Linked DNA regions of Homo sapiens. The protein of the gene in region 2 purifies or fractionates together with the protein of the main gene of each other region. This does not show direct contact. Each region holds a gene or a part of one and is shown on either strand. Other genes may lie near its edges. The genes, in order: MOB1A and ANXA7.

Region 1 (8,262 bases), on a different chromosome or scaffold from region 2:
CCCAACACTTTGGGAGGCTGAGGCGGGCGGATTGCGAGGTAAGGAGATGGAGACCATCCTGGCTAACACGGTGAAACCCCATCTCTACTAAAAATACAAAAAATTAGCCAGGCATGACTAAAAATAGAAAAAATTAGCTGGGCGTGGTGGCGGGCACCTGTAGTTCCAGCTACTCAGGAGAGGCTGGGGCAGGAGAATGGCATGAACCTGGGAGGCAGAGCTTGCAGTGAGCCGAGATCCCACCACTGTACTCCAGCCTGGGTGACAGAGTGAGACTCTGTCTCAAAAAAAAAAAAAAAAAAGATTGATTTCGTCAAACTGTTATCAAAGGTTGGCCCTCTAGCCAACTCAGGAAGGCGCCATCCTCTTCCCATTATCTCCCCTTCCTCCAATTCTCCTCCTCCCCTTGGCTCCCTAGCCTTGGAGGTAAACACTAATATTTCAGTGCACTGTTGGTTAAGCCAGATTGGCTTGGGAACCTGGTAATGTTTTTATTTTTATTTTAAAAAAGGACAGTCTTGAGTCTCAAAATACCAACACATCTCTGATTTATGTCCCATTTATAAGCTGCCTTTACTACTGTCCTGACATGTGATCGTCTTTCATTTGCTTTGGAGCTTAGTGGTGAAGAGAGGGAACATTTCCATAACTGAAAATAAATGGAGAAAAGTGGTAACTCTTTTGTTTGAGAATATTTGAAATACTAGAAATAATGAGGAAAGTACAAGCCTAGCTGAGAAACTAGTTTCATCACTTGTGGACTTAAAAAAGTAAAGCTAACAGGGTTTAAAGTTGAGAGGCAGTTCACATCCTAAGTGATACCTAGAAACCTGCTTTCTTGTTCGCAAATGATCAACATGAACATACAGAATGGCTGACATTTGGACCTTTGGATAAGCTTAAAACATGGATTGTGGAATGTCTAATAGAGGGCTTTTCTCTCTTTTTTTTAATAATGACTGTCCCACACTTTAATTCCTCAATGATATGTGGATGCTAACTAAATCAGATGAAATGTTTTCTTTAAAATTCTGTATATATTTAAGAATTTCTAGGAAATGATTATTTAAAATGGAGTTTCTAAGTAATTATTTTCTTTATAGTTTAGTGGAGTAAGAAAAATAAATCTAAAAAAAAACATCAAATCTAACCTTTATCAAAGCCATCGAGGAGGTTGGTAAAATACTTTGCAAAAATCACAGCTCTGAACCACATAGAATGCTGATGAACTTAAAGCTTTGCCAGTTTGGCAAGTCTTCCAGTATAATACTTGTTGTGCCTCAGTACATTTTAAATAGACAGCTAGAGTTTACTAAATCCTAGGAATCAAATAAAAAATAAATGTTTTCTTCACTGAAGGGGAAGGCTTTTATATCCCAATAGAAATAGAGGAATTTCAAGTTTTGATACAAAAACAATTAAAACAAGATAAAACCCAAGTGGAAGCTCAGTCCATCTTTTGAATATTAACAAAATGAGGATTTTTTTAAAACTTATTTCTCCCATTTTGTTTCCTTTAAACACATACACTCACTCACTCTCTCAAGAATAGGTAGCACACCAAAACTTTATCTGTGTTATAAGATGTGTACACCTTCATGGTTTATTGTGGTTTTCCTTAAGTTTTATCCTTATTAGGATGAAGTTCATGCATTTCTACACTACTCTTAACTAAGGCTCAAGAGACAATAAAAACATAGAAGTAATTTTTTAATAAAAGGAAATAAAATAATCAAGTACTCTGAGTATTTTCCTCCATTCTCTTATCCAGAATTTTAAGGCCTCTGAAAAATAATGAAATAATAAAAATAGTGGTTTTGAGATCTAAATTTATTAATATTTTGGATTCCTTTTCTCAGCCAAAAGCTACTATCTGAATTAAGCTTTTCAGTTTAAAAGCCTGGAAGACCATCCTTAGAAGACATTAAAAAATTACTTCTGATACACACACTCCTAATAATTTAGATAGATATGAAAACAATCTCAAATAAAGATCAAAAAATAAAGTCCCTGTAAAAATAACTTTGGTTGCTCCCACCCACACGTCATATGATGATTTAAACTGCAATCATGAATTTTGAAAAAATAGACGTATCTTATCTATAAAAACACTACCATACAAACTTGAAACTAAAATGTTATCTGAAGTGACACAGATGTTCTAAATCTCAAGGATACTGAAAAATACATTTTTTATTCGTAAAATAAAAGAATAAAACCAATCTGATTGTGTTATTAGGAAATTTGTTCTGGAAACTTATTCATAAATTATTGATGGAAATTCTTAATGTCCATTGTGCTGTCACCTAAAACAGATTCAATCATTTTCTTGTAAAGAAATGACTGAGTAAATGAGTAAAAGAATAATAAGTAAATTTATAAGCTACAGGTTAACCATCACATATTACAACCAAGTATGACTATGTGATAACAACAAGAGTGGTCACACAGTACTTAAGATTTGGCTGTGTCCTTAAGGTCTTACTCGGAAACTATCACACCAACCTACCTTTGGGATAATTTTATCAGTAGACACAGGCAATGGGTATCTTTTTATCCTGTTTTCTTAAAGTTTGTATCACTAGTCTATAACAGATAGCAATGAGATAGTTCTAGCAATAGATGAAGCAAGGGGGTAACTGTGTTCTAGAAGAAACATTTATCTGTCTTTTGATCCAAGTTTCTCTATTAATTCTTGAAGAGGTGCCAGCTCACGCCTATCAATCAGATTAAACTCCTAAAAAGAGAAGAAAAATAACAATTAAAAATGGATCTAAAACTGAAACTCTGTAAATGTCTTTTGGAGAAGGGATTCCCAACTCTAGTTTTCTGAAGTCCAAAAGAATGATGAAATAACCTCTGTGAACATTTTAAAGTAGGCATTTATTCTTTTTCTTTTTTTTTTCTTTTTTGTACAGATGTGGTCTATGTTGCCAAGGCTGGTACTGAACTTTGGCCTCAAGTGATCTGCCCACCTTGGCATCCCAAATCCCAAAGTGCTAGGATTACAGGGGTAAGCCACCACGTCCAGCCCTCTCTTTTTAAAAATATAGGTATGATATTGTGATATAAGTATTTGGTCTTCCTTTTTCTTTACACACAGCTCCTAAAACCCTTGTTGGAATCACCAGAGTGCTAAGAGTATCTTGTATGCTAATGAGATGACTGGTGGCTGGAGGCTCCTATAAAGCTTCAGGATGGGAACTGGTCAACCTTCAGCCAGCCCTCTCCCCTTCCCAGATCACAGCCTCTGGGGAGGGGAAAGGGCTGGCTGAAGGTTGAGTTGATCATCAATGGCCAATTATTTAATCAATCATGGGCAAGTAATGAAGCCTCCATAAAAACACAAAAAACAGGGCTCAGGAGAGCTTCCAGATAGCTGAACACGTGGAGGTTCCTGGAGCATGGCATGCCTGGAGAGAGCATGGAAGCCCCTTCTCCTTTGGCCCTACACATCTCTTCCATCTGGCTGTTCATCTGTATCTTTTGTTAACATCTTTCATAATAAACAGGTAGAGATAAGTATTTCCCTGAGTTCTATAAGCGGCTCTAGCAAACTAATCAAACCCAAGGAGGGGGTTGTGGGAACCCTGGTTTATAGTCAGAGGTATAGGTGACAATGTATTACTTTTGATTGATATCCCAAATGGGGGGCAGTCTTGTGGGACTGAGCTCTCAAACTTGTAGGATCTGATGCTACCTCCAGATAGACATTATCAAAATTGAATCAAATTATAGGACATTCATCTGGTGTCCACTGTAGAAATGATCACTTGCTTGGTGTGTGAGGGACAGTCCCCATGTTTGGTCACAGAAGCGTTCTGTGTGGTGAGAGTATAGTAGGATAAAGGGAGTTTGTTTTTTCCCATATTTTTACAATGGGAGACTTATTAAAGAACCAACTCTAGGTATCAGTATGATCCTCATTGTGTTAAACATTAAAATCAAAACTGTATATATATTTAAATTTACATTAAAATTACCCGAAAAAGGCCGGGCATGGTGGCTCATGCCTGTAATCCCAGCATTTTGGGAGGACAAGGTGGGTGGATCATTTGAGGTCAGGAGTTCGAGATCAGCCTAGCCAACATGGTGAAACCCCATTTCTAGTAAACATAAAAATTAGCCGGGCGTGGTGGCAGGTGCCTATAATCCCAGCTACTGAGGAGGCTGAGGCAGGAGAACTGCTTGAACCCAGGAGGCAAAGGTTGCAGTTAGCCGAGATCGTGCCACTGCACTCCAGTCTGGGCGACAGAGCAAGACTCTGTCTCCAAAAAAAAAAAAAAGAGGGGGGAAAAAAAAAAAAGAAACTACCTGAAAACTACAAACTGAATTTTTGATAAAGGGCCAGTAGACCTTTTATGCAACAATCTGAGAAGGAAGATCAGGAAGAGCATGGTACAGTACACAAAACTATAATACACAGTATCTACTATAAAGCTACCAGGTTTTTTCATCATAAAATATCTAGACAGACATGTATATGTAATTCAATATGCAAAATATAAGTATCTCTAAAGTTAGGCTAAAGGCATACCAATTCTTTGATATCTTTTTCAAACAATGTGAATTATTTTGATTTTTTAAAGTTCCAATTCTGGCCGGGTGCTGTGGCTCAGGCCTGTAATTCCAGCACTTTGGGAGGCCGAGGTGGGTGGATCAGGAGTTCGAGACCAGCCTGGCCAACATGGGAAACCCCGTCTCTACTAAAAATACAAAAATTAGTTGGGGGTGGTGGTGGGCACCTGTAATCACAGCTATTCGGGAGGCCGAGGCAGGAGAATCACTTGAACCCAGGAGGCGGAGGTTGCAGTGAGCCAAGATCACGCCATTGCACTCTAGCCTGGGCCACAGAGTGAGACCCTGTCTCAAAAAAAAAAAAAAAAAAAGTTCCAATTCTGACTAAGGGTCCACAAAGCAACAGGCCACAACCCTGAATGGATAATCCTAACCACAGACCTAGGGTGGCCAGAGGCAGAAGGCCCAAATGGGGGTGATACCTTTTTATACTGCTGCACACATCAATAAAATAAATAATGTGGAAAAGAGAACAAAACAGAAAAGAGAAGCTTGCCTGTAATTGGCTCTACATCTATAACTAAGACACACAGCTCTTTGTTGAAGTTCCCAATCCAAATAAGTCCAAGTCACAGGACACAGAAATCAACATGGATCAACTTACCTGAACAAAGAAAATAAAGTGCTTAAAGGAGGTGTTGAGGTGGGCCTCCTCTTGCAGCTGCATCACAGAATCAAAGTGCTGGTGATAAATATGGGCATAAACCCTGAACAGACGCTTTAGAATAGTCTTTGCCACAGACATAAAGTTTTTGGGAAATGGGACACCTGCAATTAAATACACATATGAAACAATTATTTGGTTATCTAACAGTAGAAAGTTGTTTATTTGTGACAGGGTCTCACTTTGTCACTCAGGCAGTGGTGCAATCTCAGCTCACTGCAGCCTCGACCTCCTGGGCTCAACTGATCCTCCCACCTTGGCCCCCCAAATAACCTGCACTACACGCCACCATGCCCAGCTAATTTTTTGTATTTTTTGTAGAGATGGGGTTTTGCCATGTTGCCCAGGCTGGTCTTGAACTCCTGAGCTCAAGCAATCTGCCCGCCTCAACCTCTTAAAGTGCTAGGATTACAGGCATGCCCAGCCTAACAGCAGAAAGTTTACACACTGCCATGAGCACCTGCAACATATAAACACACACATTCATAAATACACACAAACCTACCTCTGTATATATTTTTTAAAGCCAAGGAAATGAAAACCCAAACCCCAATCCTCACAAAGTACCACACTTTTTTCTGACTGCCTTAGGCACAGGTATCAAATTATGTAAGATGCTGCTAAATCAAAGTTCAAAAATCCTGTAGTTTTAGTTTTTTGTTTTTTGTCCCCCCCCCCACCCCGGAGACTGAGCCTCACTCTGTCACCCAGGCTGGAGTTCAGTAGCATGATCATGGTTCATTGTTACCTCCACCTCCCAGGCTTAAGCAATCTGCCCACCTCAGCCTCCAAAGTAGCTGGGACTACAGGCGTGCACTACTACACCTGGCTGATTTTTGTATTTTTAGTACAGATGGGTTTTTGCCATGTTGGCCAGCCTGGTCTCGAATTCCTGGCCTCAAGTGATCTGCCTGCCTTGGCTTCCCAAAGTACTGGGATTTAGTTCTTTAATATTAGAGAGTTTCTTTCTGAAATTAAATGCAACAAGAGTAAGTATTTTGATCATAAATATTTTTACTTTGTAATTTGTAACTCTAAAGAAATTACACTGGCTCCGTGTGGTGGCTCGTGCCTGTAATCCAGCACGTTGAGAGGCCGTAGTGGACAGATTGCCTGAGCTCATAAGCCTGAGTTCAAGATAAGCCTGAGCAACAAGGTAAAACCTCATCCCTTAGGAAAAAAAAGAAGAAATTACATACATACGCACTCTCTCAATGAGGACTGGAAACTCTCCTAAGCAAAATAAAAAGGCAGCCGGGCACAGTGGCTCACGCCTGTAATCCCAGCACTTTGGGAGGCCGAGGGGGGCAGATCACGAGGTCAGGAGGTCAAGACCAGCCTGGCCAAAGAGACCAGCTTGGCCAACATGGTGAAACCCCATCTCTACTAAAAATACAAAAATTAGCCAGGGGTGGTGGCAGGCAACTGTAATCCCAGCTACTCGGGAGGCTGAGGCAGAGAATTGCTTGAACCCGGGAGGTGGAGGTTGCAGTGAGCCGAGATCGCGCCACTGCACTCCAGCCTGGGTGACAGAGCGAGACTCCGTCTCAAAAAAAAAAAGAAATCTCTTTTTAGAAAACAACGGGGGTAGAGTTTGGTATCCTTCCAAGCAGTGGAGATGGGGATCCAACTGGTTACATTCCTGAGAATTTTGGCTGACAATATCAAAGTCCATTAGAAAACAGGGACAGACAGGTCAGGAGTTCGAGACCAGCCTGACCAACATGGTGAAACCCTGTCTCTACTAAAAATACAAAAATTAGCCAGACGTGGTGACTAAGGCCTGTAATCCTAGCTACTCAAATGGCTGAGGCAGAAGAATCGCTTGAACCCAGGAGGCGGAGGTTGCAGTGAGCCAAGATTGCCGCCACTGCACTCCAGTCTGGGCGGCAGAGTGAGACTCCATCTCAAAAAATAAAAATAAAAATAAACCTACATTAGTTGGCCTTAAAGGCCTGTTCCACAACGCTACTCTTGAAACACATTCTTTTTTTCAATTTTTCAGAAAACAAAGGCTTAAAACACTCTTTCCTTGCATTTTTTTCCCAGCCAGTTCTCAATAACCTGAAACTTATTTTGCTGATGTTTGTGGTTATTCTCCACCACCACCCCAGTCCTCATTAACGTGACTTTTCAGACATTATCCTGGAGCTTACAGGCATGTTTTCCTGGGCAGGATCTTGTATTCATGTATTGAAAAAGCAGATTTCTGGCCGGGTGCAGTGGCTCATGCCTGTAATCCCAGCACTTTGGGAGGCCGAGGCGGGCGGATCATGAGGTCAGGAGATCGAGACCATCCTGGCTAACACAGTGAAACCCTGTCTCTACTAAAAATACAAAAATTAGCCAGGCGTGGTGGCGGCACCTGTAGTCCCAGCTACTCGGGAGGCTGAGACAGGAGAATGGCAGAATGGCGTGAACCCGGGAGGCGGAGCTTGCAGTGTGCTGAGATCATGCCACTGCACTCCAGCCTGGGCAACAGAGTGAGACTCCGCCTCAAAAAAAAAAAAAAGCAGTATTCTGGCCAGGTGCAGTGGCTCATGCCTGTAATCTCAAGCTCTTTGGGAGACTGAAGCAGAAAGGTTGCTTGGGCCTAGAAGTTTGAGACCAGTCTGGGCAACACAGTGAGACCTCGTGTCTACAAAAAATTGAAAATTAGCTGGGCGTGGTGGCACACGTGCCTGTGGTCTCAGCTACTCAAGTGGCTGATGTAGAAGGACCACTTGCGCCTGGGAGGTCAAGTCCACAGTGAGCTGTAACTGCACCACTGCACTCTAGCCTGGGCAACAGAGTGAGAGTCTGTCTCAAAAAAAAAAGTAGATTTCAAAATCAAACATCTTTTTTTATCAGAATGTATAAATGGGCATCTTTCTAATAAAAGGATATTAATAATGTGCATATATTAGTAAAAAATTAATGATAAACAGTTCTGTCTGAGACTAAATAACTGGCAAAAGTAAGATGCAGATAATAGCCTAATGGCAGGGGAGTGGGATTAAGAGGTGGTGGATCAGAATGAA
Region 2 (8,262 bases):
GAATACAGAACCAATTTAGGCAAAATGAGATGCAAATTATTCTAGATGTAAAGGTTGAATTTTTTTTTAAAGTACACAGTTTTAACACACTATCCACTCTATCAAGCAGACTTAGAGGGATTCCGGAAGGCAGAGCTTTCAGTAACCTTCTAAAAAATTATTCAATATTATTACACAGAATCAGAGATTGCTGTGATTTTTATTCAATTTGACATCTTGATTAGAATGAAACTAGTAAGAATGAAGGTTTACAAACATTGCAATATTACTGTATCATTGTGATATGGCTTTACATTGATTGTATGTAGAGAACAAAATAAAATTAGAATTAAGGCAATAACAACATGTGCAAACCAAGCACATTACCCTGATACGGTCCTTGACAGAAAGCTCTTTCGGTTAGCTGATGTTTGATATTGCTGCATGCAGGTCATTGCTCTGAAGGATAAGCTATGAATAGAAATTTTTTTTCATTAAAAAAAAAAAAATCCCTCCTACTGGCCCACAATAGCCAGAAGAAGTCTTCGGTAATCTCCACTCGTGTCACCTGCAATCATTGTGCCCAGAGTCTTCTGATACATCTGAGCGAACATCTGTTTTATTTGTACAAGGTCAATCTGCATAAGAAATAATATTTCTGTCAGAAAAACATCTGTGACAACTGACATTTCTTAAAATTCTTTTTAAATAATAAGATCTTAATAATAATCAAAACTTGGGGGGGAAAACACCAAGTGACTGACATTTTATGGCTGGCACTCATACCAATGCTAGCACTACCCAATGAAGGTCTGATTCACAGCTCTGTAAAATACTTGGTCAGGGTAGTACTAGTTTCATCTATTATTCCAAAGATATTAGTCATTTAAAAACATTTGATAGGATGGCTATTATCAAAACCAAAAAAATAGTAAGTATTGGCAAGGATGCCATGAAATGGGAACACTTGTACACAGGTTGATGGAAAAGTAAAAGGGTGCAGCTGCTGTGGAAACTAATATGGTTAATTCCTCAAAGCAAAACAAAAACACTTCCAAAGAATTACAATATGACCTAGAAATTCCACTTCTGGGTATATTCAAAATAAGTGAAAGTAGACTTGAACAGATATTTGTACATCCATGTTCATAGCAGCATTATTCAGGCAGAAACAAACCAAGTGTCACAGATGAATTAAAAAAAAAACCAAAAGGTGGGATACACGTACAATAGACTATTTAATTACTCAGTCTCAAAAGGAAGGAAATTCTGACATGCTATAACATGAATAAACCTTGAGGACGCTATGCTAAGTAAAAGACAACACTCACAAAAAGACAAATATTGTATGATTCCACCAATATGACGTACCTAGAGTAGTCAAACACAGGCACAGAAAGTCACATGGTTTGTTGCCAGCAGTTGGGAGAAAGGAGAATGGGGAGTTACTGTTTAAGGAGTATGGATTTTCAGTTTTGCAAGTTGAAAAAACATCTGAAGGTGAATGGTAATGATGGTTGCATAACAATGTGAATGTACTTACTGCTACTTAAAAATGGTAAATTTTTATGTTATGTATATTTTATCACAACTTAAAACATCCTGCTTTGAAAATTTAAGTTAAAGAACAAAGTTTTTTTCAAAATACCATATTCTGGTTGTTTTCTTTAAAAATAATCTACCTTCTTTAGTATAATTTAGGGTTTTTGGCCGGGTGTGGTGGCTCATGCCTATAATCCCAGCACTTTGGGAGGCCGAGGCAGACGGATCATCAGGTCAGGAGTTCGAGACCAGCCTGACCAACATGGTGAAACCCAGTCTCTACTAAAAACACAAAAAAATTAGCCAGGCATGGTGGCACGCACCTGTAATCCCAGCTACTCAGGAGGCTGAGGCAGGAGAATCACTTGAACCCGGGAGGCAGAGGTTGCAGTAAGCCGAGATTATGCCACTGTATTTCAGCCTGGGTGACAGAGCGAGACTCCATCTCAAAAAAAAAAAAAAAAAAAAAAAAAAAAACACGCAATAATAATAATAATTTAGGGTATTTTTTTGACACAGGGTCTCTGTCACCAAGGCTGGAGTGTAGTGGTGCGATCACGGCTCACTGCAGCCTTGACCTTCCAGGCTCAGGTGATCCTTCCACCTCAACATTCTGGGTAGCTGGGACTACCATGCCGGGGGGTGGGTGTGGGTGTGTGTGTGTGTGTGTGTGTGTGTGTATTTTTTGTATAAATAGGTTTCACCGTGTGTGTGTGTGTGTGTGTGTGTGTATTTTTTGTATAAATAGGTTTCACCATGTTGCCCAGGCTACCACGCCCCGGCGTGTGTGTGTGTGTGTGTGTGTGTGTGCGCGCGCGTGTGTTTTTTGTAGAAATAGGTTTCACCATGTTGCCCAGGCTGGTCTCAAACTCCTGGGCTCAAGCAATCCTCCCGCCTTGGCCTCCCAAACTGCTGAGATTACAGGAGTAAGCCACGACACCCCGCCATGTTTTCTTTCAATTAAAAGTTCAGGCCAGGCGTGGTGGCTCACGCCTGTGATCCCAGCACTTTGGGAGGCCGAGGCAGGTGGATCACTTGAGGTCAGGAGTTCGAGACCAGCCTGGCCAACATGGTGAAACCCCATCTCTACCAAAAAAATACAAAAACTTAGCTGGGCATGGTGGCGCACACCTGTAGTCCCAGCTACTCGAGAGGCTGAGGTGACAGAATTGCTTGAACCCAGGAAGTGGAGGTTGCAGTGAGCTGAGATCGTGCCACTGCACTCCAGTCTGGGTGACAGAGTGAGACCATGTCTCAAAAAAAAAAAAAAAAAAAAAAAATTCAAATGTCATTTCTTCTGAGAAAAAAAATTTTTTGTAAGTGGAGTAAATATATAAAGTACAATTTTTAAAAATGAGGCTATACTTGAGACAATTATGAATATTTTAAAAATTGTTTTATTATTAATAAAGGATGCTAAATTTAAATAATGTTGATATCCACTAGGATTAATCTACATAGGCCTTTCATCTAATTTTTATATAAGCAAAATGAAAATCGAAAGACAAATGTCTAACTTCCCATAAATTTGTATTCTCCATTGACGTTCTCAAGTTGTAAAATCTGTTAGTATTATCTTCATTAGGGTAGAGTGGCCTATTTCACTAATGCAAGCTTCTCCCACAGCATGAGGAAAGTGAATTTTCTGTTCTTTATACCACCTCTTTTAGGTGGCAAAGAGAGCTCTTTCTTATCATTTTTGAGGGACTGACAACCAACTGGGGAACTTTTAAGAAATCAACATTGAACATCAAGTAAGACCCGACAAAAAGAGAGAGGCCTGCCTCACCTCACTTCGAGTGACCACAATCCGGACCAGGGTGGAGTCATCTGTGCCAGCACCTTTCATAGCATAGTAGAGCCTCTCAGCAAAGAAGGCAGGGCGGTTCAGGGCACACTGCACTGCAAGTTAGAGATGGTTGAGACATGGAATCATGATCTCACAAGAAGTGTACCCCTCCAGCTTCATTTATCACTTATAGCCTGCCTTTGATTATTTTCTCTGTAATCATCACAGAAACATGGGGTGAGTTAAGAGTGTTCAGATGCTCTCCTTGATTTTTTTTGAGACAGGTTCTCACTCTGTCATCCAGCCTAGAGTGCAGTGGTGCAATCATGGCTGACTGTAGCCTCCCAGACTCAGGTGATCCTCCCACCTCAGCCTTCTGAGTAGCTGGGACTACAAGTGTGAGCTACTGCCCCTGGCCCAACATTCCATTGTTAATACCAAAGTGTTACTAATACTCCCCTTAGTCCTAATATCCATGAGAATGAAACTTTCACTTTGTTAGACATCTGTGTATTAGACCACCAGAAACTGGTTAACTTCAAAAAGGAAATGAGTCTCACTGGGCTGAGTACCTGAAATATCTGTTTTGAGGACTCAAACTGCTTCGTGGTGACACTGTGAGTTCCTCAGGACTTTCCCTTTCTCTTTAAAGGAAGTGCTACAACTATCAGGTATTCTGGCACAGTTATCAAGACAGGCCTACAGATGAAGGCCAAATAATCCCCAAACAGCCCTGTTTGATCACAGAACTACCATTCATAGGAAATTGTATGTAAAAACACAGGACTGTTTCTGGGGGCTTATCCAATAAAGAAAACAAACAACAAAAAACAAACCCCAAAGGATTAGATCAGCTACTGCCTAAGCAGATTCCACGTGGACTATATTATCAACATTTAATGGGAACAACTATTCAAAGCTCCCACTCATTTAAAAAGAAAATAAAGCAAAGCACAAAAATATCTTACAGATGGTCTTCAAACCACTTTCTACATATCCGGAAAACTCACGGCTCACACTGCTTAACAAGTCTCGATTAGCCATCTGCAAACAAAATTAAAGGGTTAAATATTTTTGTATCTTACAGCAGAAGCCAAATCTTCAAAAGAAAAGCTCATACCCTAGAATAAGCCTCCATGGTAGCTCTCAGCTGAGGAAAGCTTCTTGTGGCAAGGATCATGTTAAAGCAAGATTCATCGGTCCCTAGTCTCCCCTCACCAGCTTGATAGAGACGCTGAGCATCTTCCTGAGCCATTTGGTGGTTTATACTCTGGTTCTCATCACGATTTCCCTGCAAAAGAGAAAGGCAGGAATTGGAAGAAATAAATAATAGTTCTACTAAATTTTTTTTTTCCAATCTAGTTCACTTTTGGATTTAAAGAGACTATTTCTTTTTTTTTTGAGATAGGGTCTTGCTCTGTCACTCAGGCTGGAGTGCAGTATCAACCTCCTAGGCTCAAGTGATCCTTCCACCTCAGCCTCCCAGATAGCTGGGACTACAGGCACAAACGACCATGCCTGGTTAATTTTTTTATTTTTTGTAGAGACAGCATGTCTCACTATGTTGCCCAGGTGCTGGTCTCTAACTCCTGGGCTTAAGTGATCCTCCTGCCTTAGCCTCCTAAAGTGCTGGGATTATAGATGTAAGCCACTGGGCCTGGCCTAAAGAGATAATTTATTAAAGATTAATCCATAATGTCTGTCATGCATATGCTTCATTTCTATGCATGGAAATATAACTAGTAATTTATTATACTGTCAACTGGATTTTATAATATAAGATCACGGTTTAATGAGGTTATGTTAAAAATGAGGGCTTTTGGGAGCTAAATTAAACCCAAAATGTTTAAACAAAAATATCTCTACTAGGAGATATTAACTACCACTCAAATGAAGAAACAGCTCTCTTAGCTGGAATTTAAGATCAATATGCACTGTACTGAGTTCTACTTTTTATTCATTCATGCGACTAAGAGACATTAAGCACTTTCTTTGTGTCAGGCACTGTGTTAAGCGGTAGGGACACAGGAGAGACAGGGTCTCTGCCCTCAAGAAATTTAACTCTAGGGCAGGAGGGAGGGAGGATATAATATGGAGGCTTCATAAACTTTCTTTTCTTCATCTGAGTATAATATTTTTTTTTAAGAGACACGATTTCACTATGTTGCCCAGGCTGGGGTGCAATGGCTATTTGCAGACATGATCATAGCCTCAAACTCCTGGGTTCAAGTGATCCTCCTACCTCAGCCTCCAGAGTAGCTGGGACTATAAGCTCACACCACCACACTCAGCCATCGAATTATAATCTTAATATGTAAGTATTTACCATAAATACACGCATAAAAATGACACATAAGCTTTACAGAAGCAGCTACAAATAACTCATGTTCTGTTAGACTGTGCCTATTTGTATACCACACTCTTCCCTGGAATAGGAAGAAAGGAAGGAGGAAGGAAGAGTTTAAGCTTAATGAGCAGTTGGTTTCTCTCAAAAACAGAAAGACAAACCCAAACAAGAAAAGGCTGCCTTTTAGAGTCTCAGGGACCATCTTTGGAATAAGATGGAAAAATCCTCCTTGAAGCTGAAGAACTGTCTTCTGAGCAACTGGCACAAGGAATACGTAGAGGCACATTCTACATGGGCGACTGAATATAACACAGGAAAAGGTACTCACAAAAAATTTCCCAGATTATTGCCTTTGGATTCACACACACTTTCTCAGGAAGTTACTCCTCTACTCATGCCCTGGAAAAGGTAGGGCTGGGCCTTGAACTCTGCATAAAGAGAGACTCAGCACCTCATGTAAAATCTTAATAGCCATTTTTTAGCATTGTCTGTTTTCCTTCTTGTTTCTTTTAAATCCTAACCTACTGCCCTCCTGTTACTCTGATTTAGGTAAATTCAATTTCCTTCAACCCATTTACTTTGCTTTCTCATTTCCATATCCACTATCCTTTCCACAGCTACCTCCCTTTTTTTTTTTTTAGATGGAGTTTTGCTCTTGTTACCCAGGCTGGAGTGCAATGGCACAATCTCAGCTCACTGCAACCTCTGCCTCCCGGGTTCAAGCGATTCTGCTGCCTCAGCCTCCCAGGTAGCTGGGATTACAGGTGCCACCACTCCTGGCTAATTTTTTGTATTTAGTAGAGATGGAGTTTCACCATGTTGGTCAGGCTGGTCTCAAACTCCTGACCTCAGGTGATCCACCCGCCTCAGCCTCCCAAAGTACTGGGATTACAGACATGAACCACCACACCCAGCCCCTCCCTTGGCTCTTAAGAGCCCCTCCTCTCCTTTAGATCCCTCCAGATGGTCCAATCTTGTGCACTAGCACAATAGGCAATAACTCTTGATATTGAATCAGCATGCTAGTCATTTACATAATCTCTTTCAAATACACCTTCATCATCTAAGTGTGCTTCTTTTCTTTTTTTCTTTTCTTTTTTTTAAGGACAGGATCTCACTCTATTGCCCAGGCTGGAATGCAGTGGTGCGATCACAGTTCACTGCAGCCTCAATCTCCTGGGCTCAAGTGATCCTCCCACTGAACTTCCTGAATAGCTGGCACTACAGGCACATACCACCATGTTCGGCTAATTTTTAAAAATATTTTTTATAGAGATGGTTTCTTGCTATGGTACCCAAGCTGGCTTCAAACTCCTGGCCTCAAGCAATCCTCCTGCCTTGGCCTCCAAAAGTGCTGGAATTACAGGTGTGAGGCACAATGTCTGGCCCTAAGTGTGTTTCTAATGCCATTCCAAATACCCTATTTGGAGTATTTTCTGTCAATTCTCCAGCACACCTGGGGAATCAAAATAAAGAAGGTGCTAATCACAGTTATTACTGGGAACCCTAAAACATTTTTCTGCATTTCTGGGTCTCCTCACATAGTCCTCACTTCCTGTAGCACCTCTATGGCAGTCCTGCACATCTTCACTTGATGGTGGGGCATAATGGGCAGGATAGTGATAAGCTCAAATGTACAGTTTCATCCCCATCCCAGCCACAGAGCCTCGAATTGGTTTCTGATTCCATACAACCTTAGAGGTTAAATCTCTAATTCCTTACAAAAGCCAGATTTACAGGAATAAATCTCAATAGTAACTACAAAGAAATCTGTACACTGGTTTCTGTGTTGTCCCTCTTAAAGATGGCAATATTGCAAGGTGGCTAAATATTAAAAGGAATAAAGAATGCTCACTGGCAAAAGGCTTTTAAAGTATGTTCCCTCTATCAACGCACAAGCATTCATACTATACTCACCTGGCACATGGACACAAGTAAACGTTCAAAATGTCCTGATGTATCTGACCTAATGTCCTTTTCAAGGTCTCGTCCAAATTCTGACTGATAACATCTGACAATTTCTCGGATTTCCTGATTTGTTCTTGTGCACAAAATCTCAATCAATACACGTTCCTGAGTTCCTGCTCCCTACATGAAATGAAGGGAAGATTATACAAAGAAAAATGAAATTTCTGCAAGTAATTAAATCTTCGTCAAATATTTCTTTGTTCTGTAGAACTAAAAACTATATATTCAGATGGATGATGTGAAATAAAGAATTGCTTTAATTACCACTGTAAATTCAGAACTGTCATAATTTGTACGGTTTTACATATGAAATAGGACAAAATATTCATAATAAATGACATATAGTAGTACCTGCATTGCTTTCCGTAAGCTCCAGGCATCGTAATACGTAGGAGGCATGAAGAGGGCCAGGATCAGTTCTTCCATATTTCCACTTAACTCTGATTTGAGATCTTTGATTAAATCCTATTTAATCACAAATACAAGCTAAGTATATGTGTTCTCCAAATTTTGTCACTTAAATCTTTTAAGGAAAATACAAAAAAAGAAATGGAATTGCTTTATAAAAACCTAAATTTGAAAGCTGAATGTTAATATACTAAGAAGTAAATAAAGGCCAGGCGCGGTGGCTCATGCC

What was found.
Region 1: the proteins of ANXA7 (region 2) and MOB1A purify together in Homo sapiens (affinity purification with mass spectrometry; 2 studies listed by BioGRID and IntAct, with this or other methods). This does not show direct contact.

What each region holds. Positions count from the first base shown.
Region 1 is NC_000002.12:74,153,909-74,162,170, forward strand, and holds part of MOB1A (MOB kinase activator 1A), read right to left. Parts: intron 5,347-8,262; coding exon 5,183-5,346; intron 2,738-5,182; coding exon 2,660-2,737; 3' UTR 1-2,659. UniProt on the Homo sapiens protein: Activator of LATS1/2 in the Hippo signaling pathway which plays a pivotal role in organ size control and tumor suppression by restricting proliferation and promoting apoptosis.
Region 2 is NC_000010.11:73,375,601-73,383,862, forward strand, and holds part of ANXA7 (annexin A7), read right to left. Parts: intron 8,091-8,262; coding exon 7,977-8,090; intron 7,746-7,976; coding exon 7,575-7,745; intron 4,602-7,574; coding exon 4,431-4,601; intron 4,355-4,430; coding exon 4,279-4,354; intron 3,424-4,278; coding exon 3,311-3,423; intron 618-3,310; coding exon 495-617; 3' UTR 1-494. UniProt on the Homo sapiens protein: Calcium/phospholipid-binding protein which promotes membrane fusion and is involved in exocytosis.